Linked DNA regions of Homo sapiens. The protein of the gene in region 6 interacts with the protein of the main gene of each other region in a pairwise test. Each region holds a gene or a part of one and is shown on either strand. Other genes may lie near its edges.

Region 1 (3,500 bases), on a different chromosome or scaffold from region 6:
TTTAGTAGAGTCGGGGTATCGCCATGTTGGCCAGGCTGATCTTGAACTTCTGACCTCAGGTGATCCACCCACCTTAGCCTCCCAAAGTGCTGGGATTACAGACGTGAACCACTGCGCCCAGCCCTGCTTGGTGGTTCTTTATCACCCTGATTTTATTTACCATATATACTTGAATTAATAAAATCTATTATCTATTTGAATAGTCTGTAATTCAGAGTTTTCACTAATTTAACCTAGACTTTTCTACAATTAACTGATGTCAAAAGCCATCTTTATTGATACTGTGAAGGAGACAAATAAAATAGAAAGCATGATCCCAGCCTTAGAACCAGTCTGACTTTAACTCAAGGTTACTGATGTTGCTTAAGTGCTGTGGGTCTGGAGCCAATCTGGTTGAACTTTTTCAGCCCCTGACTGGCTCCAGTGTTATGGTAATGAGCTGGTTCTGGAGTGTCAGTTGCTTTAGCTCATTGTGGCTAGTAGATGGTCCAATCATGCCTCTATTTATGAAGACCCCAAGTACTCAGGTTAATGTGGGAAAATCAAAGGCTCTGTCTGGAAAATGTTGCCATTAGCATTGGCCTAGCAAAAGAGAAGGAGAGAAAGAAAAACAAAGGGCCTAAAAAATTTATTTTCTAAATACAAATCTCAAATAAAAGACAGTAATATATTTTGTTTTTACTGAAACTCTTAAATTTTCCTTACTTTAAGTTTATTCTTGGCCTATTTAAGTGACAGTGCCAGATTCAAACATTTTAGGCAGTGTGGCTCCAGAATCTTCTTTTTCATTTTTTATTGTTATTATTTTATTTATTTATTTATTTTTGAAACAGGATCTCACTCTGTCTCCCAGGCTGGAATGCAGTGGCCCGATCTGGGCTCACTGCAACTTCCATCTCTGGGACTCAAGCAATCATCCTGCCTCGGGCCCCTGAGTAGATGGGACCACAGGGGCACACCACCGCGCCCGTCTAATTTTTGTATTTTTTGTAGAGTCGGGGTTTCGCTATGTTGCTCAGGCTGATCTCGAACTCCTGAGCTCACGTGACCCGTGAGCTCACCTTGGCCTCTCAAAGTGTTTGCATTACAGACGTCAGTCAGCCACCATACCCGGCCAGAATCTTCTTTTTAAAAATCGCTACACTGTACTATCCAATAAGTCAGGGCAAAAGGAAGAATGCACTCCAAGGTACAAAGGCAGGAAATTATAGAGTATGTTTAATAAGCAGTTTAGTTTTTAACAGAATATGTAGGAGAATAATAGAAGGGAAGGACAGAAAATTACGTTGGGACTATATCCTGAAGGACCTTGATTGCCAGACTCAGGATGAACTTAAATGTATATCACATTTAGAAATAAAAGATAGAGCTATAAACTAACACTGCATAGTTCATTGTAGTGAAGATAGTTCCCTACAAATAGTTCTTTGTAGTTCCTAAAAAGTCCTCCTGTTTTAGTTTTTCAGCTGTGATCCACTTGTGTCAAATGAATTTTAATAAATGTTTTTTAATAAAGTTGAATAAGTTATTCTAAATATGTTAGACTTCTTAAAAAGCTAGTAGAATCTTCCTTTCCATTGAATTTTGAATGTTTTTTTCTAAAAATTCACAAACTGTTTTTCTCTTTTGATACTTTGAACCATTTAACTAGTTAGTCACAAAATATTTGGGATTCTTTTGTTTATCAAAATACAATATCAACAAACTTGTCATGATTGATTTATTTATTTTTGTTGTCATGATTTATTAATTTGTGTTTACAGATTATTATTACATTTGATATGGCAAAAATATTTTGGCTAAAGTGGTAATTTTATTATTATATTTCTATTTTAATTGAGCTATAGTGCAAATCTATGGCATTTTATTCCAGCATAATTTGGAAGTCCAATTGTACTTTAAGAAGTCTAACTCCTAATATGCTTCAGATATATAAAGTGTTACTAAGAATTATTGTGAATAATTTAACAAAAACAAGTGTACACGTTCCAAGGAGGACCATCCCCTTCGAAGTAGTCACTTTAGGAGACTAATCTATTTACTCTAATGTTGTTGTTATTGCTAAAATTGCTTTTGAAACTTCTGTTTTAGAATCACCTTGAGGCATGTAGCACATTCTTTTGAATATCCTCAAAGAAGAAAATCTTCATATTTTGAAAGTAGACATGATATCTAAATATATCTAGAAATCACTTGGCGACAAATCTGATGTGTAATCAAACCAAATGATACCATAATGATACCATAATGATACCTATTTTCTTGGTGATACATATGAAGGCAATTCCAAATAAAAAGAAAAATCCCAAAATATTTTGAGCATTGATAGCATAATTTACATCAGTGTATAACCTTCCAAATGACTATTTTGAAATATAACATTCAGATGAATTTAGTCATGCTTCATTTGGTATTAATCAACTGCTGACTATGTGCCAGCTGCAGTTATTAAAGACACTAAATCTACAGGTATAGCTTCCCACTGCTCACACTGGCCTACTTCCCACCTAATGAGAACCAGGCCAGAGTTCCTTTCCAAATAACTGGTAGGGATTCAGAATTAATCTGGTTTTTCTGAATCCAGTATCCAATGTACCAAAGGAACCATAACATTCCTTCATAACCTCCACTGTGGGTACCTAGGTGACACGAGAAAGCCACCGACACAGTGCCTGGTTTGTTTTCTCTTTTCCAGCTGGAACTTTGAGCCCTATTCTGCCCTATTCTGAACCTTCATCTCTAGTAGTCAACTTGTGCACAAACCTCAAGAACTGTACCCCACCTTCTATAGGCCAGCGTCCTTCTTCACTTTAAATAGGTCTCCCTGTAACCATGACTTCAACCTTTCTGCCCTGAAGCACTGCTCATGTCTAAAAAATATGTTCCCAAATGATGATACATAATGTATCATACACTTTTTCTAGAGGTAGGGCTTAAGAATCTGCATTTTAAACCAACTCCCCCAAGTGATTATTAAGCACATTAAAACCCGAGAACCACTATACTAGGTGCTCAATAAGTGCTTGTTAGCTTGAGTATGACATTTTAGTAAAGCAGGCTGAATGTTTGAGTTTACTTGGTGCTCCAGGTCTGTGAGTTAGCAAAATACATATATTTGAAGGAGTTTAAAAGGATTTCCAAGGAAGTATAAGAACCAATGGAGTGATCCAGGGAAAGAAGGGAGATATGACAATAAAACATCTTCATGTCTTAAATAAAACAGAAAAGTAAAATACCTCTTTCTGATTATCTTTTTCTTCAGATAATGGAATCTGAAAATATGGATTCTGAAAATATGAAGACAGAAAATATGGAATCTCAAAATGTAGACTTTGAGAGTGTTTCTTCAGTTACAGCTCTGGAAGCCCTCTCTAAGCTACTTAATCCTGAAGAAGAGGATGATTCTGACTATGGACAGGTGGTCATATACTTAACAGTTGAATTAGTTTTGTTCATGGGAAGTTGTGGAACTGTATTTGAATAACCTGTTCCCACCTAGC
Region 2 (3,500 bases), on a different chromosome or scaffold from region 6:
CAGTCCGGGAGCATCTGGTGGTGAGTCTGCCCCACTGCCTGATGCTCCCTCCACCTGGTGCTCCCTGCCTCTCTCTGTGGTCAAGGTAGGGGACGAGATCGTCCGGATCAATGGATATTCCATCTCCTCCTGTACCCATGAGGAGGTCATCAACCTCATTCGAACCAAGAAAACTGTGTCCATCAAAGTGAGACGTGAGTGAGGCCAGAGCAGGGCAGTACTCCATGACGGTGGGAGGGAGGGAGGGCGGGGGAGCAGGGCAGTACTCCATGACGGTGGGAGGGAGGGAGGGCGGGGGAGCAGGTCAGTACTCCATGACGGTGGGAGGGAGGGAGGGCGGGGGAGCTGTCCTAACCCCTGTGCCTTTCTCCCGCAGACATCGGCCTGATCCCCGTGAAAAGGTGAGAGGCCCCTCCTCTGCAGGCCAACTCTTCCCTGTGGGCCCAGGATCCTGGTACAGCCCTGGGGTCCGGCTCCCACCATGCCAGCCCTGCTTCTGGGCCAGTGGAGGCTGGAGGCTCTAGACATGGTGGATCTGGATGTGGGGCCTGGTTCCTCAAACGTCTCTCGCTAACCACCCTCCCATCTATTTTCCCTTCCCATCAGCTCTCCTGATGAGCCCCTCACTTGGCAGTATGTGGATCAGTTTGTGTCGGAATCTGGGGTAAGGGCCAGACCTCCTGTGATGGGGTTTGGGTGGGGTCATCTTCAAGGAGGGGTGGCCGGTCCTGAAGGGAGGGCTTGCTCTAGAGATGCACCCTCAGGGGCTTCACACAGGCTCCCAGGGCAGCCAGCACACCGCTGTGGGGCAGCAGCCCTCGGCCAGGCCCAGCTGGTGCAGACACATCCCCAGGGACGGAATGATGATCTGGCTGGCGTGAGTTCAGCAGTGCTCGCCCTGCAGATCCCACAAGCTCAAGAGGCCGCTTGCACGCATGTGGACACTCCGTGATTCTGCTTCTATCTCTCTTTCAGGGCGTGCGAGGCAGCCTGGGCTCCCCTGGAAATCGGGAAAACAAGGAGAAGAAGGTCTTCATCAGCCTGGTAGGCTCCCGAGGCCTTGGCTGCAGGTGGGTGGCAGGCATGCCCTGGGGTCATTCGTGGCCAGTGCACCCCAGCAGGCCCCTATTGCCCTCCCCTTCCTCACTGCCACTTCCGAGGAAACCTTGCCCACCAGGGGTGTGACTGTCCATGGGTGATGATACTTTTTTTGTTAGATACAGGGTCTGACTCTGTTGCCCAGGCTGGAGTGCAGTGGCATGATCATAGCTCACTGTAGCCTCAACCTCCCCAGCTCAAGCAATCCTCCCACCTCAGCCTCCTGAGTAGCTGGATCTACAGGAACACACTGCCATACCCAGCTAACTTTTAATTTTTTTGTAGAGATGGAGTTTTGTTATGTTGCCCAGGCTGGTCTCAAACTCCTGGGCTCAAGTGATCCTCCCACCTCAGCCTCCCAAAGCCCTGGGATTAGAGGCATGAAGCACCGCACCCAGCCTTGGTGTTGACACTTCTTGGTGCCTGATTTCCCCTCTGAACTTCATGACAGGCCTTTAGGGCCAGAGGGTCATCTCTAACAGAGCCCAATTTACAGATGAGGAAATTGAGGCCCAGAGGCAGAACAGTGTTACCTTGTGGGCCCTTGAGTCACTGCAAAAGGAGCCTGTTTGGCTGGTCATCTCTGTCACAGCTCTCTTGTCACTTATTAACTTGTTGGCTTCCTTAAGAGGCAGACAGGGAATTCCGAACAGACACTGGGCCACACGGGGCTTAAGCATGCAGGTGCCACCGTTACTCAGATCCCAGTTCCAGCCCTGCTTTCCCACTTAAGAGCTCTGGAACCTTGGGCCAGTTACTTAACCACTTTGAGCCTCAGTTTCTCCCTCTATAAATGGGCGATAATAATTCCCACATCACAGGGTGGTTGTGGAGAAAGTAAAGTGCCAAACTTAGTACCTGCTAAATAGTAAGCAGTTGGTAAATATTAGCTATTATTATTTAAGTTATCCCTGTTCTTTCCTTTCATTCACATTTATTCAATGTTTTGTGCCAAGCACAAGTGATAAAAAGTCCCACCTTTCTGGGAGACAACAGCCTAATCTAGAAGCCAACCAAGTAAATAGTTATAATATAGGGTGATAGGGACTCGAACGGGACTACATTCTGCGTCCAGGATGGCAAATAGGTGCCATCTCTAGTCAATGAGTAGCAGCTCCCTGGAGTGCTGCTTTGAAAAGCATTCTAAAGCTGTATCCAGGATTGTGGGAAAGAGTGCTGTGATCAATGAGTGACTTCTGCCACCAATCTAGGAAGGAATACTAACAGTACATGTACCATCCTTGCCGTAAATGTCATAGGAGCACTGAGAACAGAGCGGCTAGTTTAGTCTTGGGATAGAATAAGGGATCTGAGCCAGGCATGGTGGTGCACACCTGTAGTCGCAGCTAGGCTGAGGTGGGAAGATTGCTTGATCCCAGGAGTTGGAGGTTGCAGAGAGCTATGATCACACCACTGCACTCCAACCTGGGTGACAGAGCAAGACCCTGTCTCTAAAAAATAAATTTAAAAAAATAAGAGGATCTGGTAAAAACCTTATAGAAGGGATAGCATTTGAGTCTTAATGGATGGACAGGAAAGTGCTAGAAAGAAAGAAGAAACAGCATATGAGGTATATTAGGTGAGAGGTTGGGTAGGAAGAATTACAAGGATTTTTCTGTGGCTGTTGCCCAGGGTAGCAGTAGAAATCAGGCTGGAGAGGGACACAGAGGCTGAAGAGGTAGGCAGTCAAGGGCCTTCAGTCCTCAGCTCATGAGTGACCTGTATCCTGAGCACTGGACATGGGTTACCTGAATCCCGAGCACACATTTCCCACCTCCCGCAGCATTTCCAGCGGCCCCATCCAGAAGCCTGGCATCTTTATCAGCCATGTGAAACCTGGCTCCCTGTCTGCTGAGGTGGGATTGGAGGTGAGTGACGCTGGGCCGGCCCCAGTGGGGGCCCACTGGAAATTGGGTCAGACTGTGATCCCGCGGTGACAGGGGCAGGTGCCTTTCCACATGGCCCTCTTTCAGTGGACACTGAGGGAGTAGGAGCCCTACCCACCCTGCAGAGAAGGCTTCACAGACTGGGGATGTTTGACCCTTCTGCAGCCTTCCCCAGCTCTGATAGTTGTTGGTCACGAGCTTGGGAATGTCGTAATGGTAATCAAAGAGCGGACCTTCAGTGTCCACTTGCATCAGACATTGTTCCATGCCCTTTACACTTCACAAGAATGCTGAGGGTTAAGTACCACCATTATCCCCACTTTACATATGAGGAAACTGAGACCCAGAGAAAGTATATGATTTTTCCAAAATCGTGTACCTCATATGGTAGGGCTGGGATTCAAACCTAGGTGGTCCAATCCCAAAGCAGGAACCCTTAACCTCTTCTTTGGACAAGTTACTTCATGTCTGTTTGCTTACCTGTAAGATGGGGATAATACAGGCTTTCTTCCAAGG
Region 3 (4,295 bases), on a different chromosome or scaffold from region 6:
GGACGTGCAGCTCGCGGGGTCCCACTGCCTGGAGGACGCAAGGATGTGCGGCACGGGCTCTGGGCTGGCCGACGCTGGATCCAGGGACCAAGGACTTTCCAGAAACGCCTTCACATCTGGGGTTCTAGAAGGAGCAACATGACAAGGATCCTGGGTCTATTCCCCAGCCCCCTGGAAGGCTGCCCCCACCCACCCCAAGAGCAGAGGGCTGGACCCATCCCCAGGACACCCCAGGCACCACCCAGCATCAAGCCAGCCTCTGCCCAGGGGCCCTGGGCCAGCCAAGCTCCACAGCTGTCTACCCAGTTTCCCTCTGCCCAACTCCTCCGGTTCTAGATTCTTCCACAGCTAATTAGCCACCAGTCCCATGCCCCAGCCTGCTTTGGGGTAAAATGGGTACATTTAAACACAAGATGCAGACAGTCCTTCAACCTGGGGAGCTGCCATTCTGAAAAGAACCAAATTATCTTGACTTCAGAAAACTGCATTCCTGAAGCTGCCCATGGGGAGGAGTATGACACCTCACTGACCACCTGTAAATTCCCCACACACAGGAGCAGAAGAGATCCTCCCGGGCACCTCCCACCTCCACACCAGCCCAGGCCCTCAATTCTGCTGACCGCGCTCCCCCCTTGCTGGAGCTCGCCCATGTTGGTCACCTCACACCTGGCCACCTGAGTTGGCAGGGCCCTGGGCAGGTCACCACCTGCGGAGGCCAAGCCGGGCCTCCAGGCCACACCCTCCCGAGGACATGCCAGGGGGCTTTGGGTCTGCTGCTCCCAGGGTCACCCAGCCCTGGAGAGCGGGCCCCAGGAGACACTAACCGAGTCCCGCTGGACGCTCCCGTCCCAGGGTCTGGCACACCTGCTTGAATCTGACTCGACAACGTCAACTGTAAAACATCCTCCTGCAACGAGTGCCACATTTCCTTGGAGGAAGCAAGAATCTGAAATTTAAGTAAACATGTAAAACAAAGACAGAGACAGTCAGCTGAGAAACCCAAGACACGGTGACAAGACTGCTACCCCAGGGCCTGGAGGGTCACTGTGAGCTCGGTCCCCGCTTGGAACTTGGGGGCGAGAGTACAGGTTGACAACGAGGCTGAGGTTCCACCCCCGAAAGGCCCCACCATTCCTGAATCAGGCTGTGCATACCCAAGGGCCTCACTGCAAATGCTGGGACCCCTGACCTCACAGATGACAACACAGTTTCATTCCCCACACAGGTCCTCAGCCCCAGCACTCACGGGGTCAGCCAGAGCCCCCAGAGCCTTGGAGAGGGGAGAGGAGCCTCTCTCTTGGAGACGTGCAGAGAAATGATCTAGGGGGTGCTCAGCCAGGGAGGATCAGGAGACCCCAACTCTCCCCCAAATTGGCACGGAGCATCTCGGCAACCCATCAATGAACAGGACTCAGGGGCACAGGAGGGCTGGAAAGGAAGGCTTGCTCCTTTCCAGGAACAGAATAACAACAGGTAAGGCTTGAACAAATCAGGAAGTGCCCTGCCGAAAACGTGGCCTGCTCTAGCCGTGGAGACCCAGAGGGCTGAAGGAGACGGGGATGACAGGGGACACACTGCCTGCAAGGTGGTGAGATGTCCCATCACCGTGATGCCGGAGGACTGACGGCGTCTACCCTTACAACTCACAGCGTGCTGCTCCTGACTGGGCCCCAGGGCGCTGGCAAGCCGCAGGAACTGCACAGACATCTCCAGGACCGAGGCCATGTCCTCCCGCCGGCCATCGAACTGGGGCAGCAGGGCCCGCAGACGCTCACAGCTCAACGACATCCGCTTCCTGGTTCCGGTCAAGAAACAAATACCTCTGGGCCCTCCTGCCCTCCCCGAGAAGGGACAGCAACTGCTAGAACCTGCCAGATAGACCCTGGGCGCTTGTCAGGCAGAGGGGGCTACAAGATGACTCAGAGCTGCCCCCGTGGTCTGAAGCCCCGAGATCCACATCAGAGCACAGCCTGGGCCTGACCCCTGGACCTCGGCGACAGGCTGTCCAGCCCAGGCCCAAACCATGGCTGCTTTGCGGTGTGGAAAAGACAGCGAGGGTCAGAGGCAGTCAGAAGCACAGAGGGTCACAGGTGCACAGCCTCAAGAGGCCAAGGCTTCAGGATAAAGAGGGGCTGCAGGATGTTCCCCAACAGGGCTTTTCTGGTTTACTTGGAGATGTGCAGTCTGTCCTTCTCCTGGGCACAGGCCACGAGCCCCTCCCAGCTGCCTGACACCTGGTGGCAGCCCCGAACATAATCTCACCCGCTCCACCCCTTTACAGCGCCCTCACCCCTGGGAGGCACCACCACTCACCTGCGCTCCCTCTCGCTGATCACGTTCCGCCGAAGGCAGGAGCTGGGACCCTCGGCCACCGTAGGGGCCTTGGGCGGGCCCGAGCCCCGGGCCGAGTCCTCGCAGCAGGAGAGGGCACCAGACAGGGAGCCGCTGCCGAGAAAGCCAAGAGCACCGGGCCCTGAGAACCCCAGAAAAGGCCACCAGGAGTCCCAGATGCCAGAATGGGCGTCTTTGGGGTGCGGGTGGAAGCCAAGACTGGGTCACGTAGGGACACGGCCCGGCCCTCTCTGCACCCCTTCCCCTCTCCCAGGGTCCAGGGCTCCGCCCCAGGAGGCCCAGGATGGGTGGAGCCCAGCAACTTGCGGAAGAACCCCTGGGTACAGGCCTTGGGCCCCCAACCCCTTGGCCGCCAGCCCAATTCCTCACTTGCATCCCCTGACGGTAGGGATTCTGGAGACCTCCGGGTAGGGCTCGGAGCACCGGGACGCCATGAACTCGCAGCTGCGGAGCGACCCCACGCGCACGGCCCCTTCCGCAGGCAGCCCCGCCCCCTCACGTGTGCTCTGCCCACCTGCCACGTGCTTTCCACCTAGCCCACCCCACCCCCACTTGCAATCCGCCCCCATAGCGCATGCGCTCTAGCCCTCCCCACGCAGCCAGCCCGGGGCCCACGTGACCCGCGTTCCTGCAAAGAAGGTGCTGGAAAGGGACTCGGGGGGTCCACCCACTCTATGCCCCCGCAGGACGCCAGGGGAAGGGGCCCCAGCCCAGGTGGCCCTGCCTCTACCCTTACCTTCCCGGGGGTCGCCTCGGTTCCCACTTATGCGGTGGTCTCGGTGCCCTTGGGCACTTTGGAGATGCGGGCTCTGCCCTTAGGAGCCCAGCCCCTGGTGGGAGTGGGCGGGCTGGGCTGAGTTGTTTAGCCCAGGCCTGGGGGACCCAGGGACACAGGGAGGGGGAAGGGTACCCGCCTGCTCCCCAGTCGCCCACGCCTCCATTTTCCCCCAAATCTAGTACGCTTGCAGACGCTGCGCCTCAGGGTAGGGTCACCATCCACACTTCTGGGTCGCCCAGAACCAGGGGCATCTTGTCCCCACCCCAGGCCACCATCGTCCGTGCTCTTCCTCCCGCTGAGCTCTGCCGGGCACCCTCGGAACCGTCTGTCCCTTCACCTGGCCCTGCCCAAGCACCATCCCCGCTTTATGCCCTGGGGCCCCAGCTCGACCCCTCACCTCACACTCTCAACAGGTTTCTGCGGGATCGCGGGGGTCCTGCCCATCCAAATTCAGAAAGCTCCGGCGCCAGGTGTTTGCTCACCTCCCCGCTGAACTCCAGGAGCCGCCCTGCGCTGGGCTTGAGTCCCCCAGTACATACTTTTGGGGGGATGACGGAGGGAAGGGGGAGGTGGAGACCCTTCCTCTTTCACGGAGGTTGCGGGGGGCCCTCAGGGAAGCAGAGGGGACGAGGGTGGGGGGTGAGGCTGGACTGTTGGGAGGACATCCCTGGCCTGGCTCGTGCTGAGGTCGTAGCGGGAGGAGGTGGGGTGGGTGGCAGGGGCTCTCCTCCCGAGAGGGGAGGCAAGAAGGAGCCCGGGCAGGTGCCACCACACGGGGACGTCTGTCCGGGGTGCCCCAGTCTCCTGTGGAGAAGGCGCGGCTCTGGGCCTCGGGCTGGCATCCTGGACTTTGGGCCAAAGATGGGTGAAGGGTGTTTGGAGCAGAGGGAGGTTATGTAATATAAGGTGGTGTCTCCATCCCTGCTCCGCCCAGCCTTGGCTGCAGGTCAGACATGGAGGAGGACGGGGTTGGAGAGGAGGGCAAAAGCTCTCGGGGACCTGGGCCCCTCTCCCGGCCCTGCCCCTGGCCAGGGAGGGATGGACGGGCTGGCGATCTGGGGCTCCTCAGTGGCAGAGTGGGGCCAAGTTTTTGTTTCCCTAAAGCCCTCGGAATGTCATCAAACCTGTGACTCTCCTGCCGTTGACAACACGTGTAATTACTGCT
Region 4 (3,420 bases), on a different chromosome or scaffold from region 6:
AAAGATTAATATGACCTGTCAAATGCAGTCTAAAACTGTAAGTTTTAAAAGGGCAGTAATAATATCCTTTTCTCACTCTTGATTAGTGTTGGACCCAGTTGTAGTGCCAAGAGATATCTTTAGGCCTCATGATCTCCATCAGTATCCAAAAATCACTCCAAGATTAAAAAAAACTGGTGTCCTGTGATGGGTGCTACTAGCATTTTCTCATTCTTATGTAAAATGTGATTCAACACCTCTGTAGAAAATGTTGCCATTTTTATTGCTCTCTAACATATCATGTAAGTAAAAATAAGAAAAACGTGTGCTTGCCGTGAAGCCTCCTGGAATCTTCTTCCAACCAGGTTACATTTCTTAATCCTCATCTATGAAGAAATTCTGCAATAATAATTAGTATGTTATTAGTAATAACATAGATTTAGTCACTATAGATTTAGTTTCTAAAAATACTAATAAGATTTCACAGGGCAAGTATATATTCACTAAGTATCAAAGCAGAGTGTTAATATTTATATGAGATGGTTAAAGTCTTCCAATGAGATTGATTTCAGACTAGCATAAGTAGAGGGCATTGACACGCAACCAGAGCATAAGGGAAAATGAAATCAATTTCATCTCTCCTCACTCAGTGTACCTTCCCAATAATTCAATAGGAAGTACTCCTTCTCTTCCTGTCACTGTCACACATGCTCCCTGAGCAGAATCTAGCAGCTCATCTTCTGCTATCTGCAAATGGTCATTGCTTCTAGGTTACTCTAATGAAGCAGAAAATTCCACTTCAGGAAGTTTTCTCACCATGAGACTAAAATGTACTGTGTTGCTATTGTTACTATTAGTTCTGTTTACCTGAAGAGATAGTGGAAGCTTTGACGAAACATAGGTTAAGAGTAGGGTGGAGTCTAAGCTTTAGTTTATCAGAGCTGGCTTACAAGTAGATTACAAAGTGTGCTGCAGGGTAAAATGAGGGGATAGAATAAGTGGATAAGTAGTGCAAGGAGAATTGAGTTCAACTATTTCTTAAGTATAAAGCCTGGTTCTTAGACAGAGAGCACGTCATGTCAGCAATAAGAAGGCAGCAACCATATATGAGAGAAATACAGGGCTAGTGAGCCAGTTAATGAATTTTATTGAGAACCGACTAGGAGCCAGACCCCATTCTAGATGTGAGGATATGGTGGTGATCAGGCCATAGTTCTTGCCTGTAAGAAGTTTACATTCTAGTAGAGGGACAGTAAGGCAATAAATACATGAGCAAATGCATTAAAAAGATAATGTCAAGTACTCTGAACCTGATTAAATAGAGTAAAATGACAGACAGTAAAGGAGGAGCTGCTTTCGGTAGGACAGCTGAGAAAGGAATCCTGAGGCAGAAACATTTGAGTTGAAAGCTGAGTGATGAGAAGGAGGCAAAGATGTGAAGATCTGAGGGAGGAGTTCCAGGCAGAAGAAACAGTGAATGCAGAACCGCTGAAATCAGAATAAATTTGAAAAAATCAATGGGCAGAGAGCAGGCCAGTGTGTCTTAAGCATGTTGAATGAAGGAGAGAGTAGAGCAAAATAAATAAAAAATCAGGGGCCCATCTACATAGGGTAAGATGCTTGGTTCATGTTCCAAGGGTATCGGAAGCCACTATGGCATTTGAGACGAGTGAAAGTTTGATCTACTCTTCAGCAATATCATTCTGGTTGCTCTCGGGAAGGTGAGTGGGTGAAACAAAGGTGGAGATCATGGGACCAGTCAGGAGGCTGCTGTGTTGGTCCAGGAGAGAAAAGATGGTGGTTTGAACTACAACCGTGAAAGTGCAGATGGAAAGAGGAGGTTGATTGGGGGATATATTTTGGCGGTAGCACTTAAGTTGAAATGGAGTTTTCTTTGTGAAATATGTAGAGGAAATAATTTCTGGGAGACTAGCAAGTGGGAACAAATGGAAGAAAAAATGATTGCTCTGGTAAACCATACAGACTCAAATTTAGAATAGGTATGTGTGCTAAGTGCAAAAATAAATACAGGGTATTAAAATGAGTGGCATTTGCAGAGAAAAGAAAATGTCAATCAATTTTCAATTGCTGATTATATTTTCCCTTACAGCTTCCAGTTTGCAAACCCCAATTCCTTCTTCCTCATCCCAATGTATGTATGGAACTTCCAACCAGTATCCAGCTCAAGAAACCCTGGACTCCCATGGAACAAGCAGTAGAGAAATGGTGTCCTCTTTACCACCTATCAACACTGTGTTCATGGGAACAGCAGCTGGAGGCACTTAAACCACCAATGTGGGAGGGGGTGCTAAAACTTTAAAAAAAATCTCTACTGTGCAAATATCATTATTCACTCAGACTTCCATAAGAGTAAATAAAAATGAATATGCAGTGGCTGACATTGTTTTAAAGTCACTGGTACTATGGACAACTCCATAGTGAATGGAGATACTTGCAGAGCTTGTCATGCACACTAAGAGTTTAAAATGTGAGCTCATTATTAATCATAGTTTCAAAATTATCAAATAAAACCAGTGAAGATCTGAAGATGCAAACATTTCAACTATGAAGATTTACATTTCACTTTCTAATTTATTAAACATCTGTGTGCCTTTTTATCTTTGGTTTCTTTTAAAAAGTATATTTAATGCCTTTACAATACCTTTAATTTATTAGGATCTCAGAATCATTGTTTACTATCCCTTATTTGACAAAAAGTCAAATGTGTATGTTCTACCTCCAACGGAAATGTTTACAAGGTCAAGACTTAATTCAATTCAGACAAGACCAAAGTTGCTTGACTTCAATTCCTGTGCATTAGTGTGATGATTTCTGTCACATAGCAGCATTCCGATTCTATGTAACTGAATGGAGATGATAAGTGCTTTCCCCTCTTTATTTAAAAAAGATTAAAAGGAATAAAAGAAATAATGTATGGAAATATTTTTAAAGGCTTGGTGCTCTTGGGGCTGGTACTGTTTCTGAAGAATGCTGGGGATTTACTCTTTAATCTCAGCTCCTTTGGAAATGAGATTAAGGAGTCAAGTAGTGTGGTTAAACACTATAATTTAAAAACATTTGCATATCATATCCATGCCTATACATATAAAGAAATTGTGAATTGTAGACTATTTGAACCTTTTCAGATTTAGAAGCAGTCTTTTACCAAGTACTTTCTTATACATTGAAAGTCAATGAGTGTTCAGGGATTAGCTAGATGCAAAGCCTAATTCAGAAGTGAAGGAATCATTACATATAAATTAATACAATTTGATAACACTATCTATCTTTCTACCTCTGTTTCTTTTTCTTTTCCATATGTCTTCACTGAAAGGTCTGTTGTAAAGTTCCTGGCCTGTGGTAGGAGACTTCCATAAACTTTACAGGCTTCTCCTATAGTCTTATGACAAGCCTCATATTATTTGTATTAAGGATTAGGTT
Region 5 (3,500 bases), about 24 Mb from region 6:
AATACAATGAAGAAAATACTCATAGTAGAAGGGAACTGTAAAACAAAGAAAGCAAATGATTGTACCTGGTAGTATTGAGAAACATTTCCAAAAGGCTCAACGTTTAGGTTGGGTCTTGAAGGATGAAAAGAAGTTTATACATGAGAAAGAGGGCAAAAGGCGTTCTAGCCAGAGAGAGCACCAAATGGGAAGGCAAAAACAGCGTATTAAACAGCATGGCCTCCTAGGGGATGGTAAGAAGTTTGCTATAGCTAGAGACTGTGGGCCTACAGAAGGATGGCAGAAGATGAAACTAGAAAAGTATGTAAGAGCTAGATCTTGGAAGCCCCTCCAGTTTTGGGGGTTCTGAGGCACTTCTGAAGGATTTTAAAAAGAAGAAACACAGGATTATAGGTCTACCAATCATTAGCTGTGTGACTTTGTCAAGTTACTTAACTCTAAGCATTCGTTTCCTTTTTGTAAAATGAGGTTATTGACTGTTTAGAGGCTCTAAGGAAGTCTGTTAAGAGGATTAAATAAGATAATCGCTAAAATAAATAAGATTAAATAAGACAAATAGAAATAAGCACATGAAGAGATGTTTAGCATCATTAATCATTAGAGAAATGCAAATCAAAATCACAATGAGATACTACCTCACACCCACTAGGATAGTTTGCTACAATAATTTTTTAAAATTTTTTTCTTCTTCTTTTTCTATATTTTCTTTTTTTTCCATGTTTTTCCAGAGATATAATAATTTTTTAAAAAACATGAAAATACTAAGTGTTGGCCAGAGTATAGATAAGTAAGAACCTTCACACACTGCTGGTGGAAATATAAAATGGTACAGCGACTTTGGAAAACAGTCTGGGAGTTCCTCAAATGATTAAACATGGAGTTATCATATGACCCAGCAATTTCACTCCTAGGTATATATTCAAGAGTAATGAACACATACGTCTACACAGAAACTGATACACGAATGTTTATAATAGCATTATTTGCAACAGCTAAGAGGTGGAAACAATCCAAATGTCCACTGACGGACAGGTGGGTAAACAAAATGTGGTATACCCATACAATGGAATGTAACTCGGCCATAAAAAGAATGAAGTACTGATATGGTCACGCGCCGCATAACATTTTGGTCAACAACTGACTACATATACGACGGTGGTCCCATAAGATTATAATACCATATTTTTATTGTACCTTTCCTGTGTTTATTTATTTGTTTATTTATTTTTGTAGACAAAGTCTTGCTCTATCCCCCAGGCTGGAGTGCAGTAGCACCATCTCAGGTCACTGCAACCTTCGCCTCCTGGGTTAAAGCAGTTCTCCTGCCTCAGCCTCCTGAGTAGCCGGGATTACAGGCACCCACCGCCATGCCTGGCTAATTTTTGTACTTTTAGTGGAGACGGGGTTTTGCCATGTTGGCCAGGCTTGTCTTGAACTCCTGACCTCGGTGATCCACCCACCTTGGGCTCCCAAAGTGCTGGGATTACAGGCGTGAGCCACTGTGCCCAGCTTTCCTGTGTTTAGATATGTTTAGATACACAAATACTTACCATTGTTTTACAAATGCCTATAGTATTATGCTATACAGGATTGTAGCCTAGGAGCCATAGGCTATACCATACAGCCTAGGCGTGTAGTAGGCTATATCAGCCAGGTTTGTGTAAGTACATTCTATGATGTTCACACAACAACAAAAATCACCTAACAACACATTTCTCAGAACATATCCCCATCATTAAGTGACATATGACTGTATATACTACAACATGGGTGAACCTTAAAAACCTCATGCTGGCTGGGAACGGTGGCGTGAGCCTGTAGTCCCAGCTACTTGGGAGACTGAGGCAGAGGACTGGTTGAGCCCAGGAGGTCAAGGATGTAGTGAGCCAGGATTACGCCACCACAATCCAGTATGGGTGACAGTGAGATCCTGTCTCTAAAAAACAAACAAGTCTGGGTGTGGTGGCTCATGCCTGTAATCCCAGCACCTTGGGAGGCCGAGGCGGGCGGATCATGAGGTCAGGAGACCGAGACCATCCTGGCGAACACGGTGAAACCCTGTCTCTACTAAAAATACAAAAAATTAGCCGGGCATGGTGGCAGGTGCCTGTAATCCCAGCTACTCGGGAGGCTGAGGCAGGAGAATGGCGTGAACCCAGGAGGCGGAGCTTGCAGTGAGCCGAGATCGCGCCATTGCACTCCAGCCTGGGTGACAGAACGAGACTTTGTCTAAAAAACAAAAAACCTGATGCTAAGTTACAGAAACTAGTCATAAAAAATACATATTTTATTTATGATTTTATTCACATGAAATGCCCAGAATGGGTAGATCCACATAGGAAGTAGATGAGGGGTTATCAGGAGCTAGGGAGACATGGGAATAGGAGTGACTGTTAACAGGCATGGGGTTTCTTTATGCAAATGATGAAAATGTTCTGGAGTTAAGAGGGTCATGATGGTTGCACAATTTTGTGACCATATCAAAAAACTGAATTGTACACTTTAAAATGGGTAAATTTTATGGCGTAAGAGTTATATCTCAGGCCAGGCGCAGTGGCTCACACCTGTAATCCCAGCACTTTGGGAAGCTGAGGCGGGTGGATCACCTGAGGTCAGGAGTTTGAGACCAGCCTGACCAACATGGTGAAACCCCGTCTCTACTAAAAATACAAAAAATTAGCCGGGCATGGTGGCAGGTGCCTGTAATCCCAGCTGCTTGAGAGGCTGAGGTAGGAGAATTGCTTGACCCTGGGAGGCGGAGGTTGCAGTGAGCCCAGATCACACCATTGCACTCCAGCCTGGGCAACAAGAGTGAAACTCCGTCTCAAAAAAAGTTATATCTAAAAAAAAAATAGGAATTGTCCTATACACTGGGGTCAGTTACAACCTGATATTCACATTGAAAGGATTTTAACATAACATGCATTCATAGTAGTACTCTTGAGTCATCAAAAAAGGTTTAAGTTATTTTCAGAATTATGTGATTAGGTCATGGAAATCGGTAATGCATTTCAGATTTTCTTCTTTCAGTAGAGTGACTTTATACGTTGAAACAGCAAGTTAGATCAATTTATATGGGACATCCAAAATCCAAATGGAAACATTTTAAATATCTGTAAGAGTTAAATATTATAATAGTCCCAAGAATATAACAGAATTCAAGATTTCCATCAAGTTCAATGATCTTTAAAAAGGTGGTTGGGAAAGACAATTACACATTTTAGGAACCATTAAGTTCGAAAGTCTTTGGAATAGAAGCCAATGACATGTATTTCTATGAGTAGACTGAAGATTTAAGTAGCGAGTGTAACTTGAACTAAGGTTGTCGTTGAGAAGATCAACTCTCTTTTTTTGAGACGGAGTCTTGCTCTGTCGCCCAGGCTAGAGTGCAGTGGCGCAATCTCGGTTTACTGCAACCTCTGCCTCCCAGGTTCAAGTGATTCTCCTGCTTCAGCCTCCCGAGTAGTTGTGATTACAGGTGCCTGCCACTGTGTGCTAAT
Region 6 (2,261 bases):
CTTGTTGCTGGTTTTGAAGATGAAGGGAGCCAAGGGCCAAGGGATGATGGCCTCTAGAAGCTTTAAATGATTCCTAGCCAACAGCCAAAAAGGCAACAGGGACCTCAATCCTACAGCACCATGGAATGAAATTCTGCCAACAACTCAATGCAACTGGAAACAGATTCTCCTCCACAGCCCAGCCCTATCAATGCTTTGGTTTTCAGCTTGTGTGACTTGAGGCAGAAAAACCAGCTAAGCCTGCTGGGTTTCTAACATATAGAACAATAAAATAATTTGTATTTTAAGTCGTTAAGTTTGTAGTAATTTGTTACAGCAACAGTAGAAAACCAATGCAATAACTCAAGTTAAAAACTATAATGTACAACTAAGATGACAAAAATGAAAAAAGATGGTGTGAAATCACCAATGAGTATAGGCAATCTTTTCCACTAACAACTTTCCTGTAACTATTAGTTGGTGTGCAGAATACCAGCATAATGATGGAGCAGAAACAAAAATAGCTTTCAAATGAATCAGAGACTTTTAATTTGATTTTGTGAAAAAAGCTTATAAGCAATCAGACAGGCTGCTTTTCTCCTTTGTGTTTGTTACCTATGAGTTTCATATGGTGCAAACATTAATTAGGAAGAATCTGTAACTATGAAATGCTATGTAATTCAGGAAGACATCTTTTCCATATGGTTAATGAAAGACAAATCCTTCCCATATCATTTAACACTCACAAAAAGTATATAACAAACAAAACTGAAATTTGAATCGGAGTTTATTTGAACAGAAAAGCACTGGAAGTCTGTTCATTTTTTTTTCTTGAAACCAATTATAAAAAGTGGTCCCAATTTCAACAATTAAAAAAAATTTTCAATAAATACGTAATGAAGTACTTCAATGGGTCAATGTATCAACCTATGGATTTTTTTTTCTTTTTCAAAGGTATGCTAAGAATGAATGAATGCAGGATGTTTTTGAAAAAAAGTAAATATTATATCCTATATTATGATTGTCATGACACAACCAAATGGCTGTTTTCAGTTTTATTTGTTGCATTCAAAATCCACTGTATATTTAAGCATACATGACAAAGAACACAACCATTCTTCCTAAAACAATAAAGATACTATCCTTAGAGTTCACAGTTCTACAACAACTTTACATTAAATGTTCAAAACATTGTACAACCACAGATATTTGTGAACAGTCTTGAGAGCTGTATTTTGGTACATTAAGGCAGCTTCAGCCAACATTTTAAGAGATTCTGAATATTTGTTACAACACAGGACAAGTTTGATATTTGAATACTTGAGGTCTCAAGAAATATTAAATGTCACCTAACAACACCACAATTTGTGAAACTGTGATCTTACCTAAAAATCAAGATACTCATCCTATCAGTATCAAAGATACTTATTTTTTTTAAAAAAAGGAATTTACATTGAATGTGGGGATATAAACCCTGTATTTAAACAAGGGCTTTCAAACAGTTGCTCACACACATCTGTGAGGTAGGTTATTATCCACATTTTGTAAATCAAAAAACTAAATGAGGTTACGTGACTTGCTGCTGCTTCAGCAGCCAAAGGAAGAAACTGATTCCAAGTTAGATTTTGTTCTTAGCTCTGAGTTGTTTCCTTGACAAACTTTTTAAAGGGTTAAAATATAAAAACTGCCATTCATCAAATTCATTTATAAAGCATGAGAAGGTAGCCAAATGTTATGTTTACCAAGGTGACTTATAAAGTCAATCAACATGAAAGAAATAGGAAAATACATTTAGTGAACAACTTCTGATAGTGATAGGGAGAGGTTTGACCAAGGGAACTCAATCAGGCAGATGCAAACAACATGATCATTTGTAGGAGGCAGATCTAAGGAGAACTGAGAGGGATTAGAAAAAAAGAAAATATAGTTTAAACAAGTTTTTACTATTACTCTTCTTATAATTTAAGGGAGAAGGCACAATTTAGTGTTTTTTTTTTTTTTTTTTTTTAGAACAGTGGATCTCTCTTCCACTTTAGGAAAATGTTATCTGTCTAGAAAAATGGCCATTTTTGGTAGCAAAACTTAAATGTGTAACTGTGAAAAATGCACGTTTAAATTAGTAGAAAAAAAAATAACAATGCAATTCTCCTTGGCTAGAATGTTTTTGTTCCTCCTTGAAATTTTAAATCAACACAACGTAGCAACCCTCCCTGCCCACCTCAGAAAAGGTCACACTGTATGCACTGTATGAACCTTGTCAAAATTCTACGTATTATTCAAAA
Region 7 (3,500 bases), on a different chromosome or scaffold from region 6:
TTTGGTTTTGCGCTTGGTCTTTCGCTGGCGTTGCATATCTGGGGAAAGGTACTCTGTGGGGCCAACTCTACCTGGTACTGAGTTATGCCGTAGCCCTTGGGGCCAGGCTGGTTCCAGATGTGGGGGTAATGCCTGTTCACTGGGTGACACTGACTGTGGGACACAGCCTAGTGGCTGGAGGGGTTTAGAGGCGGCAGTAGCTCCATTAGCCAGTACCTGGAAAGAAGAAGAGGTAGAGGAAGAAGAGGGAGTAACACTAGATGCTGACTCCTCCTTACAACTACTGGCAATTAATGCAATTGGTGGGGGTTTATCCCGAGCTTGTGGCTGGGGGACGGTTGTGGAGTGGTTCCAGGAAGCAGTACCTATGCCATGTGACTGGTTGGGACCCCTGCCTGCCTGCTCCTTTGAGAGGCCACTGCTTTGAAGATGTTGCCAAAAATCTGATTGGTAGGGGAATGCTCCACTGCCAGGTGTCATCAGGGACTCCTTTAATTTCTGGTGACTCTGTGGCAGTGGTGGCATCTGAGAGGGCTCCTCAGGCTCTACCTTCAATCCTTTCGTCTGGGTAGGCTTGCTAAGAGTTGGAGGACCTATTCCAATACCAACTTGCTCTGGAGCTGGCACTGGAGGAGGAGGCACCTCCTCTGGGGGCCGTCCCGCATGATGAGTAAAAGAGAGAAGGGATTTGAAATGGAGTTGGTCCCGACGGTAGACTACTCGGGCTCGAGTCTCTTCTATTTCTTCAGATGACCAGCTAATACCACAGCGGAGGCGCTGGGCCATAAACCAAGTCTTGACTTTCTCCATCTGCAACCCATAACGTAGGCAGAGAAGGGCAATGTCTGCTAGGCTGGGATAGGGAAAGTAGCTGAAGGTTTTGAGCAGGTGTTCATTGCTGTCTAGCTCACTGGTCTGGGCTGCTTGCGTCCACACAAGCTGTAGCTCCTCAGAGATTGGAGGGAGGCAGATGAGCCCCGCTGGTGAACTACTGAGACCGCTGGCCTCTTTATTAGGAGGCATGGTGCCTTCTGATTTGTGCCCTTCAGAGATAGCTGCAATAAGAAGACAAACAGCTCAATCACTGGGTCTCCTCTTCTGACACACTGCTCAATTTCTACCAAACTAACTGCTGGACACCAGAACAATTTAATCTGTATTTGTATCATGTTGTATTGCTTTTTAAGTGCCTCAACAATTTCTTATTTAATTTTCATAAACTTAAGTCATCAGACCCTGCTTTAATTCCCATTTTCTGTGGACCAAAGTCCATAGACGTTAAATTACCCCAAGCCACATGACTGGTGAGTGTTGTTCCAAGAAAAAAATCTGTCTTTAAAGCCAGCCATGGTGGCTCATGCCTGTAATCCCAGCACTTCGGGAGGCCGAGGTGGGAGGATTGCTTGAGCCCAGAGCTTTGATACCAGCCTGGGCAACACAGTGAGACTACAAAAAATTTAAAAATCAGCTGGGCATGGTGGTTCGTGCCTGTCGTCCCAACTACTTGGGAGGCTGAGGCAGGAGGACTGCTTGAGCCTGAGAGGTTGAGGCTGCAGTGAGCTATGATTGCACCACTGCACTCCAGCCTGGGTGATAGAGTGAGACCCTATCAAAAAAAAAAAAAATCTGTCTTTAGAAGTTAAGAAGGAAAACTGATCCTGATATAGCTTTTTTTAGTGTGTATGTGTGTGTCTGTGTGTGTGTGCGTGTGTTTTGAGATGGAGTCTCACTCTCTCGCCCAGGCTGGAGTGCAGTGGCATGATCTTGGCTCACTGCAACCTCCACCTCCCAGGTTCAAGCAATTCTCTACCTCAGCCTCCCGAGTAGCTGGGATTACAGGTGCCCGCCACCACGCCCGGCTACTTTTTGTATTTTTAGTAGAGATGGGGTTTCACCGTCTTGGCCAGGCTGGTCTTGAACTCCTGACCTCGTGATCCACCTGCCTCTGGCCTCCCAAAGCTGGAATTACAGGCATGAGTCACCACACCCAGCTGGTGGGTTGTTTTTTTTTAAAGAGATAATATTGCTCTGTCACCCAGGCCACCCAGGCTGGAGTGCAGTGGCACCATCATAGCTCTGATACAGCCTTTATCTTTCCTATTCAAACCCACTTCTAGAAGCTATCCACCAACTCTCACCTTCTAAATTCATGGAACAAGAATCACATAGTGAAGACTCAACCACAAAAACAAGAGGAGCAATAATTTCAACTGGTTTGTGTGTGTGTGCATTTTTGTTTTTGTTTTTTCAAGAGACAGGGTCTCACTCTGTTGCCTAGGCTGGAGTGCAGTGGCATGATCATGGCTCATTGCAGCTTTGAACTCTTAGGCTCAAGCAATCCTCCCACCTCAGCCTCCCAAGTAGCTAGGACTACAGGTACATGCAGCCATATCCGGCTAATTTTAAAATTTTTTGTAGACAGGGTCTCACTATGTGGCCTAGGCTGGTCTCAAACTCCTAGCCTCAAGTGATCCTCCCACCTCAGCCTCCCAAACTGCTGAGATTACTGGAGTGAGCCACTGTACCCGGCCCTCAGAATTGTTTGTTTGTTTGTTTGTTTTTGAGCAGGATCTTGCTCTGTTGCCTAGACTGGAGTAGAGTGGCATGATCTCAGCTTACTGCAGCCTCCGCCTCCTGGGTTCAAGTGATTCTTGTGCCTCAGCCTCCTGAATAGCTGGGACTACAGGCGTGTGCCACCATGCCCTGCTACATTTTGTATTTTTAGTAGAGACGAGGTTTTACCATGTTAACCAGGCTGGTCCCGAACTCCTGACCTCAAGTGATCCACCGGCCTCGGCCTCCCAAAGTGCTGGGATTACAGGCGTGAGCCACGGCGCCTGGCCAGAATTGTTAATAACTATTTTTTTTTTTGAGACAGAGTCTTTCTGTCACCCAGGCTGGAGTGCAGTGGCGTGATCTTGGCTCACTGCAACCTCCACCTCCCGGGTTCAAGTGATTCTCCTGCCTCAGCCTCCTGAGTAGCTGGAATTACAAGCGTGCACCATGATGCCCAGCTAATTTTTGTACTTTTAGTAGAGACGAAGTTTCACTATTGTTATAAATAAAGTTTCGGTGCCACAAAAGAAATAGCAATCGAATATAAAATTTTCTTTTTTTTTTCTTCTCAGTAGGGCAATTTACTTCTATAGAAGGGTGCGCCCTCATAGATGGAGCAGTGGTGAGCACACACCTGGACAAAAGAGGGGAAGAAGTTCTTATTCCTGACACAGGTGGCCCCTGCCGCTGTCATTCCCATATTGGCTAGGGTTAGACCGCACAGGCTAAACTAATTCCGATTGGCTAATTTAAAGAGAGTGACCGGGTGAGTGGTTTGGTGGGGAAAATGGTTATGGCAGAGCAGGAAATCGGAAGGAGTCAGGGTGGAGAATGAGTCAGGGCAGAGCAGGTAATCGGAATGAGTCAGGGTGGAGCAGGTGATCGAAAAAGGTTGCTTTACAAGGAAGTTAAGTTTAAAAGTAGAAGGCAAAGAATTGAACATA

Evidence for each region.
Region 1: the proteins of PRKAA2 (region 6) and DNAAF6 interact in binary tests that used the Homo sapiens proteins (3 or more experiments, as listed by UniProt).
Region 2: the proteins of PRKAA2 (region 6) and USH1C interact in binary tests that used the Homo sapiens proteins (3 or more experiments, as listed by UniProt).
Region 3: the proteins of PRKAA2 (region 6) and SOHLH1 interact in binary tests that used the Homo sapiens proteins (3 or more experiments, as listed by UniProt).
Region 4: the proteins of PRKAA2 (region 6) and RFX6 interact in binary tests that used the Homo sapiens proteins (3 or more experiments, as listed by UniProt).
Region 5: the proteins of PRKAA2 (region 6) and ZBTB8A interact in binary tests that used the Homo sapiens proteins (3 or more experiments, as listed by UniProt).
Region 7: the proteins of PRKAA2 (region 6) and HOMEZ interact in binary tests that used the Homo sapiens proteins (3 or more experiments, as listed by UniProt).

Annotation. Positions count from the first base shown.
Region 1 is NC_000023.11:107,209,611-107,213,110, forward strand, and holds part of DNAAF6 (dynein axonemal assembly factor 6), read left to right. Parts: intron 1-3,262; 5' UTR 3,263-3,265; coding exon 3,266-3,418; intron 3,419-3,500. UniProt on the Homo sapiens protein: Plays a role in cytoplasmic pre-assembly of axonemal dynein.
Region 2 is NC_000011.10:17,523,917-17,527,416, reverse strand, and holds part of USH1C (harmonin), read left to right. Parts: intron 1-85; coding exon 86-194; intron 195-376; coding exon 377-401; intron 402-606; coding exon 607-664; intron 665-975; coding exon 976-1,070; intron 1,071-2,881; coding exon 2,882-2,966; intron 2,967-3,500. UniProt on the Homo sapiens protein: Anchoring/scaffolding protein that is a part of the functional network formed by USH1C, USH1G, CDH23 and MYO7A that mediates mechanotransduction in cochlear hair cells. Required for normal development and maintenance of cochlear hair cell bundles.
Region 3 is NC_000009.12:135,696,682-135,700,976, forward strand, and holds the start of SOHLH1 (spermatogenesis- and oogenesis-specific basic helix-loop-helix-containing protein 1), read right to left. Parts: upstream 2,801-4,295; 5' UTR 2,787-2,800; coding exon 2,722-2,786; intron 2,446-2,721; coding exon 2,314-2,445; intron 1,796-2,313; coding exon 1,648-1,795; intron 947-1,647; coding exon 825-946; intron 125-824; coding exon 1-124. UniProt on the Homo sapiens protein: Transcription regulator of both male and female germline differentiation. Suppresses genes involved in spermatogonial stem cells maintenance, and induces genes important for spermatogonial differentiation.
Region 4 is NC_000006.12:116,929,242-116,932,661, forward strand, and holds the end of RFX6 (DNA-binding protein RFX6), read left to right. Parts: intron 1-2,089; coding exon 2,090-2,265; 3' UTR 2,266-2,920; downstream 2,921-3,420. UniProt on the Homo sapiens protein: Transcription factor required to direct islet cell differentiation during endocrine pancreas development. Specifically required for the differentiation of 4 of the 5 islet cell types and for the production of insulin.
Region 5 is NC_000001.11:32,542,427-32,545,926, reverse strand, and holds part of ZBTB8A (zinc finger and BTB domain-containing protein 8A), read right to left. Parts: intron 1-3,500. UniProt on the Homo sapiens protein: May be involved in transcriptional regulation.
Region 6 is NC_000001.11:56,713,575-56,715,835, reverse strand, and holds the end of PRKAA2 (5'-AMP-activated protein kinase catalytic subunit alpha-2), read right to left. Parts: 3' UTR 501-2,261; downstream 1-500. UniProt on the Homo sapiens protein: Catalytic subunit of AMP-activated protein kinase (AMPK), an energy sensor protein kinase that plays a key role in regulating cellular energy metabolism.
Region 7 is NC_000014.9:23,276,133-23,279,632, forward strand, and holds part of HOMEZ (homeobox and leucine zipper protein Homez), read right to left. Parts: intron 1,056-3,500; coding exon 1-1,055. UniProt on the Homo sapiens protein: May function as a transcriptional regulator.